Homo sapiens: one gene and its partners. The protein of the gene in region 3 purifies or fractionates together with the protein of the main gene of each other region. This does not show direct contact. Each region holds a gene or a part of one and is shown on either strand. Other genes may lie near its edges.

Region 1 (3,500 bases), on a different chromosome or scaffold from region 3:
GGTGGGAGGATTACTTGAGCCCAGGAATTTGAAACCAGCCTGGGCAACACAGTAAGATCATGTCTCTACAAAAAATTTTAAAAATTAGTGGGCATGGTGGCATGGGGCGATAGTCCCAGCTACTAAGGAGGCTGAGGTGGGAGATCACTCGAGCCTGGGAGGTTAAAGCTTCACTAAGCTGTGATTGTACCACTGCGCTCCAGCCTAGAGTGCATGAAAAAACTTTTCTCATGTACCTTGTCTCAAAAAAAAAAAACAAAAAAAAAAAGAAAGAAAAGAAATAGTGATAGTAACAAGTGAGGACTCCATAAAATGTTTAGTGAAGTTAGATCTACTTTGAGATATGGGTAGAAATCTAGTCTAGAAAACAGAGTAGTTTAAGTTTCATGGATCTTGGGGTAATTTCTAATGAAAGGAAAGGCAGGCACTTCATTGAAAAACCTAAGTACATCCCTTAGGATCTGCCCTCTAGGATCCTGGCTATGACCCCATTCTGCTGGAAACCACGCGGACAGGAAGGGGCCTTTACCTGAGTGGCTTGTGCCAGGGAATCCTGAGTGACTTTGGTCAGTTTCCGTAGATATCGCCCATAAATTACAGCAATGATTGACACTGGAGGCACCACGCTCAAAACAAAGGTGGCCAGATTAGGTGAGACAAAAAACTGTCAAAAACAAAAAAAAATTCAGAGGTGTTTGTTACATTGGGTGGCAAGACATTCTCATTACCTACGAAAGGGGAGTGTGTGTGTGGGTGTGTCTGTGTGTGTGTGTGTTTAAATTAACAGCAGGCTTGAAGGTACTGTCCCCAAGTTGTTACATCCTGTTTTGATGGAATTTTTCAGACATCTTTATTCTTCACAAAACCCCATAAATATTCAGCATGCCACATAGAAGAAATGTGACAAGAAATTGCTGAAGAAAGAATCCTCAGGCCAATACTAGATCAGACCACGCGGTTTAACAACAGAGTGGGAAGAGACAGGATGGGGGTTTGGCAGAGGCCCATTCTGCTCCACGCTCCAGTCCACCTCAGGAGTTGTATATTCAGGTCTGAACCACCTGCAGGCACTGAACAACCACAGCAACACGTCCCATCAAAATGACCAAGATGGTGAAGTCACCAAAAAACCCCATTATCGGGTGGGGTGTGGTGGCTCACGCCTGTAATCTCAGTACTTTGGGAGGCCGAGGCGGGCAGATCACCTGAGGTCAGGAGTTCGAGACCAGCCTGACCAACGTGGTGAAACCCCATCTCTACTAAAAATACAAAAATTAGCTGGGTGTTGGGGCACGTGCCTGTAATCCCAGCTACTCGGGAGGCTGAGGAAGGAGAATCGCTTGAACCCGGGAGGTGGAGGTTGCAGTGAGCCAAGATTGAGCCACTGCACTCCGCCTGGGCAACAAGAGCAAAACTCCATCTCAAAAAAAAAAAAAAAAAAAACAGCACATTGCATAACAGTCAACAGAGGACTTGGAGGACACAACTAACAAGTCGAAGAAGAATTAGAGCTGCTTTTATGGCTCAGTGGACTGAAGTCAGCAGGATGGATCTGGGCTCAATATACTGAGGAGCTTCTAGCAATTGGAATTGCTGAAAGAATAACCTAACTTCTGGAAGTAAGTAACAGAGGGTTTTCCTGTCAACATTGCAATTTGGTGATTGTACTTTCAATAGTACTGGCATCTCTTCGACAAATTACTAAAATCTACCATATCTCATTTGCACAGAAAATAGTATAATCAGTACACGGCTAAATAATACTAAGGAAAAACTGCAAACTGAAACATAAGTGGATGGATCAACCAATCATTCACTCATTCATTTACTCATTCAACAAGTTATTACTGAGAGCCCACGTTACTGAGTGCAAGCACTATTCCAGGCACCTGGGAGATAACCAACCCTCACAGAGTTTTCATGCAAGAAAGAAGAGGTGAGACTTAGATAATAAACAAGTAAAAGAAAGAGAAAGTATCACTGCAGATGTAACACAATCTTGGAAGACCTCTCCCCCAAGAGGGAAGAGCCATTGCATAAAGGCCCTGAGGCAGAAAGGAGGTTGGCACCTTCACAGAGGAGCAAGCAGATGTGCATAGGAATGTCCCACCCTGAGAAGACAAGTCCATCAGGACACCTGGGGTGAGTCTTGGGGAACATAATCATATCTCTGATGGTCACCATCAGGACATGAGACCAACAGGGCAGGTCTAACACTTCTGGGGCCTGAACACAACTGATGTCAAAATGAACCAACTGGACAGGTGTCCTCTGTGTAGGGCAGGCACAGTCCATCAAGATTCTCCTAGAACTGTCCAGAACCACCCCCCTCCCTTCACTCTGGTTCCACACTTAATGAAAAACCTTCTGATGACTAATACAGGGTGCTGGCACCATAATGAAGTGTTTTGAATAGCAGAAATGGGCTAGGCATAGTGGCTCACGTCTGTAATCCTAGCATTTCGGGAGGCTGAGGCAGGCGGATCGCTTGAGCCCAGGAGTTCAAAACCAGTGGGCTGGGCAACATGGTGAGACACTGTCTCTATAAAAAATACAAAAATTAGCCGGGCATGGTGGCGCACGCCTGTGGTTCCAGCTACTCAGGAGGCTGACGTGGGAGGATCACTCGAGCTCGGGAGGCAGAGGTTGCAGTGAGCCAAGATGACACCACTGCACTACAGCCTAGGCAACAGGGTGAGACCTTCTCTCAAAAAAAAAAAAAAAAAAAAAAAAAGGAATAGCAGAAACACAACTTAATGGTGGGTAGGCCCACTATGTAAATTAATAAATTGGCAGTATGCCATACACAATATCAGGTTCTCATAACTGGACTTCCCCTATGTCAGGTCCATGAGTTTGTGCAGGAGAAACAAAGTCACATTTCTGATCCCCTAGAGCCAAAGATCAGATCCTAGGTGAAGCCACTTCCTGAGGCCCTTTTACAGACTGAATGGAAATTCCCCCTGAAATTCACATGTTGAAGCCTTAATCCCCACCATGGCTGTATTTGGAGATGGGGCCTCTAAGAAAGTAACTAAGGTTAAATGAGGTCGTTAAGTGTGGGGCCATGATCCAATAGGATTAGTGTCCTTATAAGAGACACTAGAGCACACTCTCTCTCCACTATGTGAGCACATGGCAAGATGGCAGCTGCCTACCAGCCAAGAGAAAAGGCCTCAGAATGAAGCTATTTTGCTAGCACCTTGACCCTGGACTTCTAACCTCCAGAATTGTGAGAAATACATTTCTGTTGTTTCAGCCAAGCCACAAGAAAAGGCCTCAGAATGAAACTATTTTGCTAGCACCTTGACCCTGGACTTCTAACCTCCAGAATTGTGAGAAATACATTTCTGTTGTTTCAGCCACCCAGTCTGTGGTATTATTATGGCATCCCAAACAGACCCCTTTGAATTGCTCATCTGACCTACACTGAATTCCCTTTCCTTGTTACAAAAAGTACCCCAAGTGATTTTTCCCAGCTTGAACTCTTCCTGATCCCC
Region 2 (3,500 bases), on a different chromosome or scaffold from region 3:
CTGTTATCTTCTAGAATTTTTATGGTTTCAGGTCTTAGATTTAAGTATTTGATCCACCTTGAGTTGATTTTTGTATAAGGTGAAAGATAAGGATTCAGTCTTATTCATCATCTACATTTGGCTTGCCAATTATCCCAGCACCATTTGGTGAATAGGGTGTCCTTTCCCCATTTTATGCTTTTGTTTGCTTTGTCAAAGATCAGTGTAAGTATTTGGGTTTATTTCTGGGTTCTCTATTCTGTTCCACTGGTCTATGTGCTATTTTTATACCAGTACCATGCTGTTTTGGTGACTATGGCCTTATAGTATAGTTTGAAGTCAGGTAATGGGATGCCTCTAGATTTGTTTTTTTTTTTTGCTTAGTCTTGTTTTGGCTCTGCAGATTCTTTTTTGGTTCCACATGAATTTTAGGATTGTTTTTTCTAGTTCTGTGAAGAATGATGGTGGTGTTTTGGTGGGAATTGCATTGAATCTGTGGATTGCTTTTCGCAGTATGGTCATTTTCACAATATTGATTCTACCCATCCATGAGCATGCGATGTGTTTCCATTTGTTTGTGTCATCTATGATTTCTTTCAGCAGTGTTTTGTAGTTTTCCTTGCAGAGGTCTTTCACCTCCTTGATTAGGTATATTTCTGAGTATATATATTTTTTGCAGCTATTATAAAAGGGGTTGAGTTATTGATTTGATTCTCAGCTTGGTTGCTGTTGGTTTATAGCAGAGCTACTGATTTGTTTACATTAATTTTGTATCCTGAAACTTTGCTAAATTCATCTATCAGTTCTAGCAGCTTTTTGGAGGAGTCTTTAGGGTTTTCTAGGTATATGATTACATCATCAGCAAACAGCGACAGTTTGACTTCGCTTTATTGATTTGGATGCCCTTTATTTCTTTCTCTTGTCTGATTGCTCTGGCGAGGACTTCCAGTACTATGTTGAATGCAAGTGGGCATCCTTGTCTTGTTGCAGTTCTCAGGGGAAATGCTTTCAACTTTTTCCCATTCAGTATAGACAGTTTTCATTACCTTAAGGTATGTCCCTTCTATGCCAATTTTGCTGAGGGTTTTAATCATAAAGGGATGCTGGATTTTGTCAAATGTTTTTTGTGTGTCTGTTGAGATGATCATGTGATTTTTTGTTTTTAATTCTATGTGGTGTATCCCATTAATGTCTTGTGTATGTTAAACCACCCCAGTATGAAACCCATTTGATCATGGTGGACTATCTATTTGATATGCTGTTGGATTTGGTTAGCTAGTATTTTGTTAAGGATTTTTGCATCTATATTCATCAAACATGTTGGTCTATAGTTTTCTCTTTTTTGTTATGTCCTTTCCTGGTTTTGGTATTAGGGTGATACTGGCTTCACAGAATGATTTAGGGAGGATTCCTTCTTTCTCTGTCTTGTGAAATAATGTTGATAGGATTGATACCAGTTCTTAGAATGTCTGATAGAATTCATTTGTGAATCCATCTGATTCTGGGCTTATTTTTGTTGGCAGTTTTTTAAATTACCATTTCAATCTCACTGCTTGTTATTGGTCTGTTCAGAGTTTCTCTTTCTTCCTGGTTTAATCTAGGAGGGTGGTATAATTCCAGGAATTTATCCATCTCTTCTAGGTTTTCTAGCTTGAGTATGTAAAGCTGTTCACAGTAGCCTTGAATTATCTTTTGTATTTCTGTGGTATTGGTTGTAATATCTTGTTTCATTTCTAACTGAAGCTTATTTGGATCTTCTTGGTTAATTTTGTTAATAGTCTATCAGTTTTATTTATCTTTTCAAAGAATCAGCTTTTTGTTTATCTTTTGTATTTTTTTGGTTCAATTTCATTCAGTTCTGCTCAGATCTTTATTTCTTTTGTTCTGCTATGTTTGGGTTTGGTTTGTTCTGGTTTTTCCAGTCCTTGAGGTGTGACCTTAGATTGTCTATTTGTGCTCTTTCAGACTTTTTGATGTAGTCATTTAATGCTATGAACTTTCCTCTTAGCACTGCCTTTGCTGTATACCAGAGGTTTTGATAGGTTGTGCTACTATTTTCATTCAGTTCAAATAATTTTTTAACTTCCATCGTGATTTCATTCTTGACCCAGTGATCATTCAGGAGCAGGTTATTTAATTTCCATGTGTTTGTATGTTTTGAGGGTTGCTTTTGGAATTGAGTTCCAATTTTATTCCACCGTGGTCTGAGAGAGTACTTGATATAATTTCAGTTTTCTTAAATTTATTGAAACTTGTTTTGTGGCTTATGATATGGTCTCTCTTGGAGAATGTTCCATGTGCTGATGAATAGAATGTATATTCTGCAGTTGTTGGGTCGAATGTTCTACAAATAGCCCTTAAGTCCATTTGTTCTAGGTTATAGTTTAAATCCATTGTTTCTTTGTTGATGTTCTGTCTTGATTACCTATCTATTGCTGACAGTGGAGTATTGAAGTTCCCCACTATTACTGTGTTGCAGTCTATCTCATTTCTTAGGTGTAACAGTAATTGTTTTATAAATTTGGGAGCTCTGGCATTAGGTGCATATATATATATATATATATATATATATATATATATATATATATATATAATTGTGATATTTTCCTGTTGGGCAAGTCCTTTTATCATTACATAATGTCCGTCTTTCTCTTTTTTAACTGCTGTTTCTTTAACGTTTGTTCTGTCTGATATAAGAACAGCTACTCCTCTATAAGACAGGCCTGCACCTGTAATCCCAGCTACTAAGGAGGCTGAGGCACAAGAATCACTTGAACCTGGGAGGTGGAGGTTGCATTGAGCCAAGATTGAGCCATTGCACTCCAGTCTGGCCGACAGAGTGAGACTCTGTCTCAAACAAAACAAAACAAACAAAAAGAATAGCTACTCCTGCTCACTTTGGTGTCCCTTTGCATGGAATATCTTTTCCCAGCCCTTTACCATAAGTTTATGTTAGTCCTATTTGTTAGGTGAGTCTCTTCAAAACAGCAGATACTTGGTTGGTGACTTCTTACCCATTCTGCCATTCTGAATCTTTTAAATGGAGCATTTAGGCCATTTACATTCAACATTAGTATTCAGATGTGAGGTACTATTCTATTCATCTTGCTATTTGTTGCCCGAATACCTTGGTTTTTATTTATTTATTTATTTATTGTGTTTTTGTTTTATAGGTCCTATGAGATTTATGCTTTAAGAAGGTTCTATTTTGGTGTATTTCAAGGATTTGTTTCAATATTTAGTGCTCCTTTTAGCATTTCTTACAGTGCTGGGTTTGTAGTGGCGAATTTTCTCAGCATTTGTTTGTCTGAAAAAGACTGTATCTCTCCTTCATTTATGAAGCTTAGTTTTGCTGTACACAAAATTCTTAGATGATGATTCTTTTGTTTAAGGAGGCTGAAGGTAGGGCCTCAATTTCTTCTAGCTTGTAGGGTTTCTGCTGAGGAATCTGCTGTTAATCTGACATGTTTTCCTTTATAAGTTATCTGGTGCTTTTGCCTCACAGCTCTTAAGATTCTTTC
Region 3 (4,266 bases):
GTGTTCTCATCTGTACAGTAGAAACTGTACTGCCCACACATTCTGTCCAAGGTGTGGCACCGTGTAGATTTGGATGAGCATGTTTGTGGGATGGGAGGGTCAGAGTGTGGCTCTGACATCAAAAAGACCTGGGGGGTAAGTCCCAACTCTGTCCCATCTTGGCTGTGTGCTCTTGGGCAAGTTATTCCCCCTCTTTGAGCCCAAGACCCAAACTAGACTGACACGGGTCAGACCTTAGAGGACACTGATACTAATGCATCCTTCTGCAGATGGAGAAACTGACTCCTAGAGAGAAGAAGGAACCTGCGCAGGAAACTGAGGAAGATGGTAGCTGAGCTGGGACCTGGGCCTCAGCCAGAGCCTTCCCCAGATGTCTTACTGGTGTTCTCTTCTGCCTGCAGCCCCCTCCCCATTCAACCAACCATTGCCTTAAAAACAAAGCTACCCCAGGCAAAAACATCTCAGGGACACATATTACACGTAGGTCTGGTTAAACCACGAACAAAAAGACAGCAGGTGCTTTGTAAGGTACATGCCCCTCCACTGAAAGTGACAAGGATGTTGTTGGTCTGTGAGTTCTATTGAAAAGAGGTTCTAGGCTGGGAGCAGTGGCTCACGCCTGTAATTCCAGCACTTTGGGAGGCCGAGGCAGGCGATCACGAGGTCAGGAGATCGAGACCATCCTGGCTAACGTGGTGAAACCCCGTCTCTACTAAAAATAAAAAAATAAAAAATTAGCCGGACATGGTGGCTCCTGTAGTCTCAGCTACTTGGGAGGCTGAGGCAGGAGAATGGCGTGAACCCAGGAGGTGGAGTTTTTAGTGAGTGGAGACTGTGCCACTGTACTCTATCCTGGGCAACAGAGCGAGACTCCGTCTCAAAAAAAAAAAAAAAACACCAAGAAAAAAAAAAGATAAGAGGTTCTAGATGGATCTCCCTTGGAATACCCACAGGAGTCTATACAAGGGCTGAGCTGAAAACTTCTGGGCCTTTCTGAGGGATCCAATGTATTTTGCATGTCTCATTCGAAAATGCTAGAATGTGCAAGCAGCCCTGGAGCTCATTCTTTAAACAAAATAGGACATGCCACACACAGAGACACACACACACACACACACACACGCAGGCACATACTCATGCTCCCGGAGGACGGAGGAGCAGCAACAGGTCCAAGCCTCGAGGCTGCCCTTGGTGGCTGTCTGCCACTGTGCAGGGAAGGAGGGGTCATCAGTGATGCTTGATGCTGCCACCTCAGCCAACACCCCCAACACATACACACACATGCACGCATGTACACACACACACACTGAAAGCCAGGCCCAGAAACCAGGCCAGCCCACGATGTCTGCTGCCATGCAAGGCCTTGGGCTAAGCGCTGATAAGGTTCAAAAGTGATGAAGACACAGCAGCAATGGGGTCTGAGACTGAAGAATGGGGAGGGCAACACACAAGACACACGCACACAGACGGAGTCACAGCCCTAGTTATTCATGCAGACTCATGCATCACATGCCACACACCTACTCAAGATACACACACACACTCACAGCATCACTCATTCACAGACTCATGCACCACACAATATACACACACAGACCCACCCTCACAAAAACAGATACAAAGACACACATAGATACGTGTACACACAGTGCAAAGAGATACACTTAGGTATCTCCAGACAGATGCACAGACATTCTCATACGCACACACTCACAGCCACAGGTCCTCACCCATGCAGGTATACACACCAGAGCACGCAGTCCAGGCATCGAGATGCTACCCCAAGGACTATAAATTCTGTCTATGGGGTTCTGGGAGGTCATTGGCCATGAGCCCTAAAGACTAGACTGCCCCCCTCTCCACGCGCTGACCCCAAGGAGAGTGGAGGGGCAGAGGAATGGCAGAACCTCTCTGATTCTCACCCTCTGAATGTGGGGTGGGAGTGGGGCGGGGGGAGTGAAGGGACCCCTACTGCCAGGGGAGCAGCTCACTGACCCGTGACTCTCAGGGAGGGAGTCCCCTGGCTCTTGGAGGTGGCTCCAAGGACTGAGAATTCGGGGGCTGGGAAGGGAGGTTTTATTTTCCTTCTGCCTTTTCCTGAAGCGTGCCCCACCTTCGGCAGCCCCATTCAGAGCCCCTCCTCCAGCACACCCTGTGGGGGGCGTCCCCCTAGCAGCTTCTCTCTCTTGGAAGGTCCCCTTCCTGAGCCGCGCCCACCTGCTCCTCCACAAGAGGAGGTCCTATCGGGATACATCCAGGTGTGCCCCACACCTGGAGGGCCCTCACGCTACATCCGCCCCCGCAAAAAGCCTCAAATGGGCCAAAGCCTCCCCACACCTACGCCCACCCCCAAACTCCCTCGCTGCGCCTCCTGCCCTGCGGGAGGTCAATGCCCACCCAGGTGAGCCCCACACCTGTTCTGGCCGCCCCCCCGCCGCCAGAGGCCACCCTTCCACGAAGACTCTTTTCCCGTTTGGCCGCTGCTGCCGGGGGAGTCCTGCCCAGTGCCCCCACCCCGGCACCCACCTCCTTCTTGACGGTGCGTAGCAGCCTCTGTCGGGTCTCCGCCTCTGTGGGACAAGAAACGAGAGCCGCGGGTCAGCCGAGAGAGGGTGCGGGGGCCGGGCGCTGCCCTCCCGCCGCCCTCGTGTCCAGCGGCCTCTTACCCGCGGGGGCCGAGGCCATGGCTCCGAGCGCTGCGTTCCGAGTCCCAGGAGGCGGTGGCGGCGGTGGCGGCGGTAGCTCCTCCGGCCGCGGCGCTGCTGCTGCAGCCGCGGCGGGGCGGGGCCGAGCGCTGAGTGACGGCCGGAGGGCGCCCGACGTCAGGACCCGAGGCGGCCGCCCCACCCCTCCGGAAAGCCACCGCTCGGCGGGGCAGCCGGGTCGCCTGCGCCAGGAGCCTTCGCGCCAAGCACGCACGCTCCCTCCCGCGCACCCAGCGCCCGAGCCTCTCAGGCTCCCCCAACCTCCACGCCAGCGCCCGCGTCCCTCCCTCTTCCCTAGGGCGGGGAAGGAAAGCGTCCGTCCTGAACCCTCCTCTGTGGGCCAGGCTCCAGGAAGTCACAGGAAATGGTGGGGCTACTACCGATATTCTCCAAGCCTCAGTTTTCTCATCTTTAAAATGGGTATAATGTGGTATAAAATGGGCATAATGGGTCTCAGAACGATCTGAGCCTTAAGTGAGATATTGGATGTGAAGCCCTTAATACAGACCCAGGGGGAAAGGCCAGCGAGCATAAATGCTTGCCACTGTTACTGTTATTATTATTAATTATTATTATTGAGGGTCTTCCAGCCGGTCGCGGTGGCTCACGCCTGTAATCCCAACACTTTGGGAGGCCGAGGCGGGCAGATCACTTGAGGTCAGGAGTTCGAGACCAGCCTGGCCAACATAGTGAAACCCCGTCTCTACGAAAATACAAAAATTAGCCGGACATGATGGCGAGCTGCCTGTAATCCCAGCTACTGGGGAGGCTAAGGCAGGAGAATCTCTTGAACCCGGGAAGCAGAGGTTACAGTGATCCAACATGGCGCCATTGCACTCCAGCCTGAGCGACAGAGTGAGACTCCGTCTCAAAAAATAAAAAAAATACAAATACAAAAATTAGCCAGGCATGGTGGCGTGCTCCTGTAATCCCAGCTACTCAGGAGGCTGAGGCATGAGAATTGCTTGAACCCTGGAGGCAGAGGTGTCAGTGAGCCAAGATTGTGCCACCACACTCCAGCCTGGGCAACAAAAGTGAAACTCCATCTCAAAAAAAAAAAAAAAAAAAAGAGTCTTCCAAGATACACTGGTTATCCATTCAGGAGAGGCCGGGACTTAAGTGGCTCCCTCCCCGACATGCAGGTCACTGGAGGAGTGGGGTTTTCCCAGGAGTCTGGCCCCAAAAGGAGGCACTTGTCAGCCAGGATCTCTGGGGCTGAGCAAGCAGTGGGCTCTGTGGGAAAAGCCTTGTTCCATCAAGAGCCCCTGGTCACCCCAAGTCCCTAACTGTATCCACCCAGAATGCAACTCAGGTCAATATTTATTGAGCACCTACTCTGTGCCAAGTGACTGTGCTAGAGATTTCTAAGTGAGCAAGACAGACAATGAACTCTGCCCTCATGGAGTTTAGGAGGCGGACAACAAAATATGTAAGAAAAGGACAGACCATGCTGGAAAGTTCTGGAGAAAAATTAAGTAGGCAAGGGGGACAGGGAGGGCCCAGACCCCTGGGGATCGTATTCTGAAGTAGGGTGGTTGAGGGAGGCCCCACTGAGCAGGTG
Region 4 (3,500 bases), on a different chromosome or scaffold from region 3:
TTCAGGGAATGACAAAGACTGTCATACCAAACATATTCTCTTGTCGCCCAGAGCTGGCAACTGTATTATTTGTCACCTGGCATCCTGTGGTGTCTTCGTAGGGAAAAGATCAGGTGCGGCCAGAGGTTCCACCCCACCGTCCCCTCCTGGCATCCCCCATTCCTGCTCCTCAGGCCGCACCACCCGGCTTGGGCAGCATCCATGTGCTTCCTCTCCCGTGGCACATAAGCAGGTGTCTGTGTCTGTAAACCGGGTGGCGTATCGTGGCGTTCTTAAGAGCACTGTTCTTTTTTCCCACTTACCACTTTGTCATCTGTTCATGTTGAAAGAGATTGACTTAGGGGGTATGTGGAAAGCCATGTAGGGGTGTCTGTCTCGTATTTTTCTTTGTTTATATATACAAAACTGCTGTATTGAAATATAGTACAAATGCTATATAATCCATCCTTTTAAAGCATACAATTCCGTGGTTTCTAGTATATTCACAGAGTCAGACAACTTTCACCAGAATCTAACGTACAACATTTCTGCCCCCAAAAAGAACACTGTCCCATTCCCCCAGAAAGAGCATTGTCCATTCGCAGTAACTCCTCCTCCCTCCCCAGCCCCTGGCAGCCACAGATCCACTTCCTGTCTCTGTTTTTTGCCTGTCCTTGACATTTCATATAAATGGCATCAACGCACTATGTGGCCTTTCGTGTCTGGCTTCTCTCGCTGAGCCAGAGGTTCATCCACGTTGCAGCGGGGGTCGGAGCCTTGTTCTTTATTAAGACTGAGTGAGATGCGCTGTAGGGGCGGACCATGTGTGTCACTCCATTCCTCCTTGAGACTTGGCTACCGTGAATGATGGTGCTGTGCACGTTCATGTGCGATCTGTGTGTGAACACGAACAAATGTTCCATTTCTCTTGGGTACATACCGAGGAATGGAATTGCTTGGGCATGTGGTAATTCCTTGTTAAGCAGTTTGAGGAGCCGCCAGACTCTTCCACAGCAGTGGCACCATGCGGCCTTCCCGCCAGCAGTGTGTGAGGGTTCCAGCTTCCCCACATGGGTATAGCCGTCCTAGAGTGCGCAGAGAGGCTTCTCACCGTTGTTTTGCTTTTCATTTCCTTAGTGATTCTTTTAATTTCAGATACCCCTTATACAATGTAAAGCCTGTTCTAGCTTGAGGGCAGGACAAAAAACTGACCAAGGTGGCCCCCAGGCCGTCGTTGGCTGGCCCTGGCAGTCCCCACAGGCTAAAGGGCGACTCTCAGGGTGTGGCTGCAGCAGGACACCAGCTGGGGTCCCTGCTTACCGGCGGCCACTGTGTTCCAGATGCAGTGCAAGCTGTTTGTCTTTGACAAGACCTCACAGTCCTGGGTGGAGAGAGGCCGGGGGCTGCTCAGACTCAATGACATGGCGTCCACCGATGACGGCACACTACAGTCCCGACTAGGTGAGCTGCCGACGGCGGGGGCTGTGGCCGGGTCCCCATGGGGAGGGCTGGGGACTATGCAATTCCAAAGGGAATGAAGCGGGGGAGATCCTGACCCTACCCTTGTGAGAGTCAAGGCACAGAGTCGGTCTCCCATGAGAGCCGCCCCCCAAACCCCCTCCCTGCACCCAGCCCTCAACACCACCCTCACACACTGGCTCCAGCTGCCAGCTCGTCCGTGACCCTCTTAGTGTCAAAATGGACAAAAGTCTATGGAAGTTTTTAAGCTGATTTTCTGACAAAGTGGCAGGTTTATGATAGAAAGGAAAATGAAATCAAACATCAAGTCTAATCTCTTGATAAAGACAAATTTTGGCCAGGCGCAGTGGCTCACGCCTGTAACCCCAGCACTTTGGGAGGCCAAGGTGGGCGGATCACCTGAGGTCAGGAGTTCAAGACCAGCCTGGCCAACATGGCAAAACCCTGTCTCTACTAAAAATACAAAAATTAGCCGGGCATGGTGATACATGTCTGTAATCCCAGCTACTCGGGAGGCTGAGGCAGGAGAATTGCGTGAACTTGGGAGACGGAGATTGCAGTGAGCCGAGATTGAGCCACTGCACTCCAGCCTGGGCGACAGACCAAGACTCCATCTCAAAAAAAAATAAAATATACTGTTTTTGAAAAGCTTTCATGTTAATATTCCATTGACAGTCAATGGACTTTTCCCTATTGGTGGACATTTAGCTTGGAGTACCTGCATACACACACCCACTTAAGGAAATCAGCCTGTGTGTGTGCACATTTGAAATGTGGGCGTGTCTTTTTTTTCCTTCTAAAGCTGATTTCACTCCATCACCCAGGCTGGAATACAGTGTGATCATCGCCTCAAATTCCTGGGCTCAAGTGATCCTCCCACCTCAGCCTCCTGAGTAGCTGGGACTACAGATGCACCACCACGTCTGGCTAATGTTTTTATTTTTGTCTTTATAAAGACAGGTCTCCCTGTGTTGCCCAGGCTGGTCTTGAGCTCCTGGCATCAAACAGTCCTCCCACCTCAGCCTCCCAAAGCGCTGGAATTACAGGCGTGGGCCACTGCGCTGGGACCATCTTTTTGTTTTATCTTCCCAAATCAAAGTGTCTTCTGGCCTTTTCATAAATATGGGTTTCAGGCCCAGCAGTAACTCAAGCAGCCCCCTTGAAGGGTAGTGTTCATGCACTTCAATCAGAAACACTGCTCTGGTCAGAACAGACAGGGGATGTCCCTGCAGGCTGGGACTGCTCTTTTGTTCCCCATGGACGTCTTTTTTTTTTTTTTTTGAGACGGAGTTTTGCCCTTGTTGCCCAGTCTGGAGTGCAGTGGCTTCGTTTCGGCCCACCGCAGCCTCCACCTCCCAGGTTCACGCGATTCTCCTGCCTCGGCCTCCCGAGCAGCTGGGCTTATAGGCACCCGCCACCAAGCCTGGCTAATTTTTTTATACTTTAAGTAGAGACAGGGTTTCTCCACATTGGTCAGGCTTGTCTCGAACTCCTGACCTCAGGTGATCTGCCCACCTAGGCCTCCCAAAGTCCTGGAATTACAGGCTTGAGCCACTGTGCCCAGCCTTATGGACGTCTTCTTGTGTTTTTCCTTTTGTCTCGTGGAAATGTTCAAATGTCCATGGAAAGAGAGGGCATAGAGCCCTGAGCCCCCAGGTCATCCCCTCTGCCTGGGTCATCAGCCTGTAGCCCCGTGGCAGCAGTACCCTCCCCAGCTTCAGGGAGAGCAAAATCACCTCTGTCTTTCTCCCACTCGGCCTCTGAGGTGGGCACCTGGGCTCAGGGAGGTCTGTTCGCTGGGCCAGGGCAGGGGGACAAGTTTCTGACCGTCTCCAGGCCTGCTCCAGTGGGGAGAGGCGGCTGGCAGGAAGGTAGGGGCTTGGCTGAGTCCACGGGGTGGGCCCAGGCCAGGCGCAGGGGTGTTGCATCCTCTAGAAGAGTCAGGGCCCTCCCATTTTCCTCCGTAATCTGCTGCCCACAGTCCTCTCGTCTCCTCTCCATGGAAGCGCTAAGCTGCGGTCCTACTCTGCCTTCTCCTAAGG

What was found. The genes of interacting proteins can lie anywhere in the genome.
Region 1: the proteins of SGSM1 (region 3) and ABCB10 purify together in Homo sapiens (affinity purification with mass spectrometry; one large-scale study listed by BioGRID and IntAct). This does not show direct contact.
Region 2: the proteins of SGSM1 (region 3) and PDGFRL purify together in Homo sapiens (affinity purification with mass spectrometry; one large-scale study listed by BioGRID and IntAct). This does not show direct contact.
Region 4: the proteins of SGSM1 (region 3) and RANBP3 purify together in Homo sapiens (affinity purification with mass spectrometry; one large-scale study listed by BioGRID and IntAct). This does not show direct contact.

What each region holds. Positions count from the first base shown.
Region 1 is NC_000001.11:229,541,708-229,545,207, forward strand, and holds part of ABCB10 (ATP-binding cassette sub-family B member 10, mitochondrial), read right to left. Parts: intron 665-3,500; coding exon 530-664; intron 1-529.
Region 2 is NC_000008.11:17,636,216-17,639,715, forward strand, and holds part of PDGFRL (platelet-derived growth factor receptor-like protein precursor), read left to right. Parts: intron 1-3,500.
Region 3 is NC_000022.11:24,804,745-24,809,010, reverse strand, and holds the start of SGSM1 (small G protein signaling modulator 1), read right to left. Parts: upstream 2,801-4,266; 5' UTR 2,686-2,800; coding exon 2,667-2,685; intron 2,571-2,666; coding exon 2,527-2,570; intron 1-2,526. UniProt on the Homo sapiens protein: Interacts with numerous Rab family members, functioning as Rab effector for some, and as GTPase activator for others. Promotes GTP hydrolysis by RAB34 and RAB36.
Region 4 is NC_000019.10:5,919,141-5,922,640, reverse strand, and holds part of RANBP3 (ran-binding protein 3), read left to right. Parts: intron 1-1,319; coding exon 1,320-1,440; intron 1,441-3,500. UniProt on the Homo sapiens protein: Acts as a cofactor for XPO1/CRM1-mediated nuclear export, perhaps as export complex scaffolding protein. Bound to XPO1/CRM1, stabilizes the XPO1/CRM1-cargo interaction. In the absence of Ran-bound GTP prevents binding of XPO1/CRM1 to the nuclear pore complex.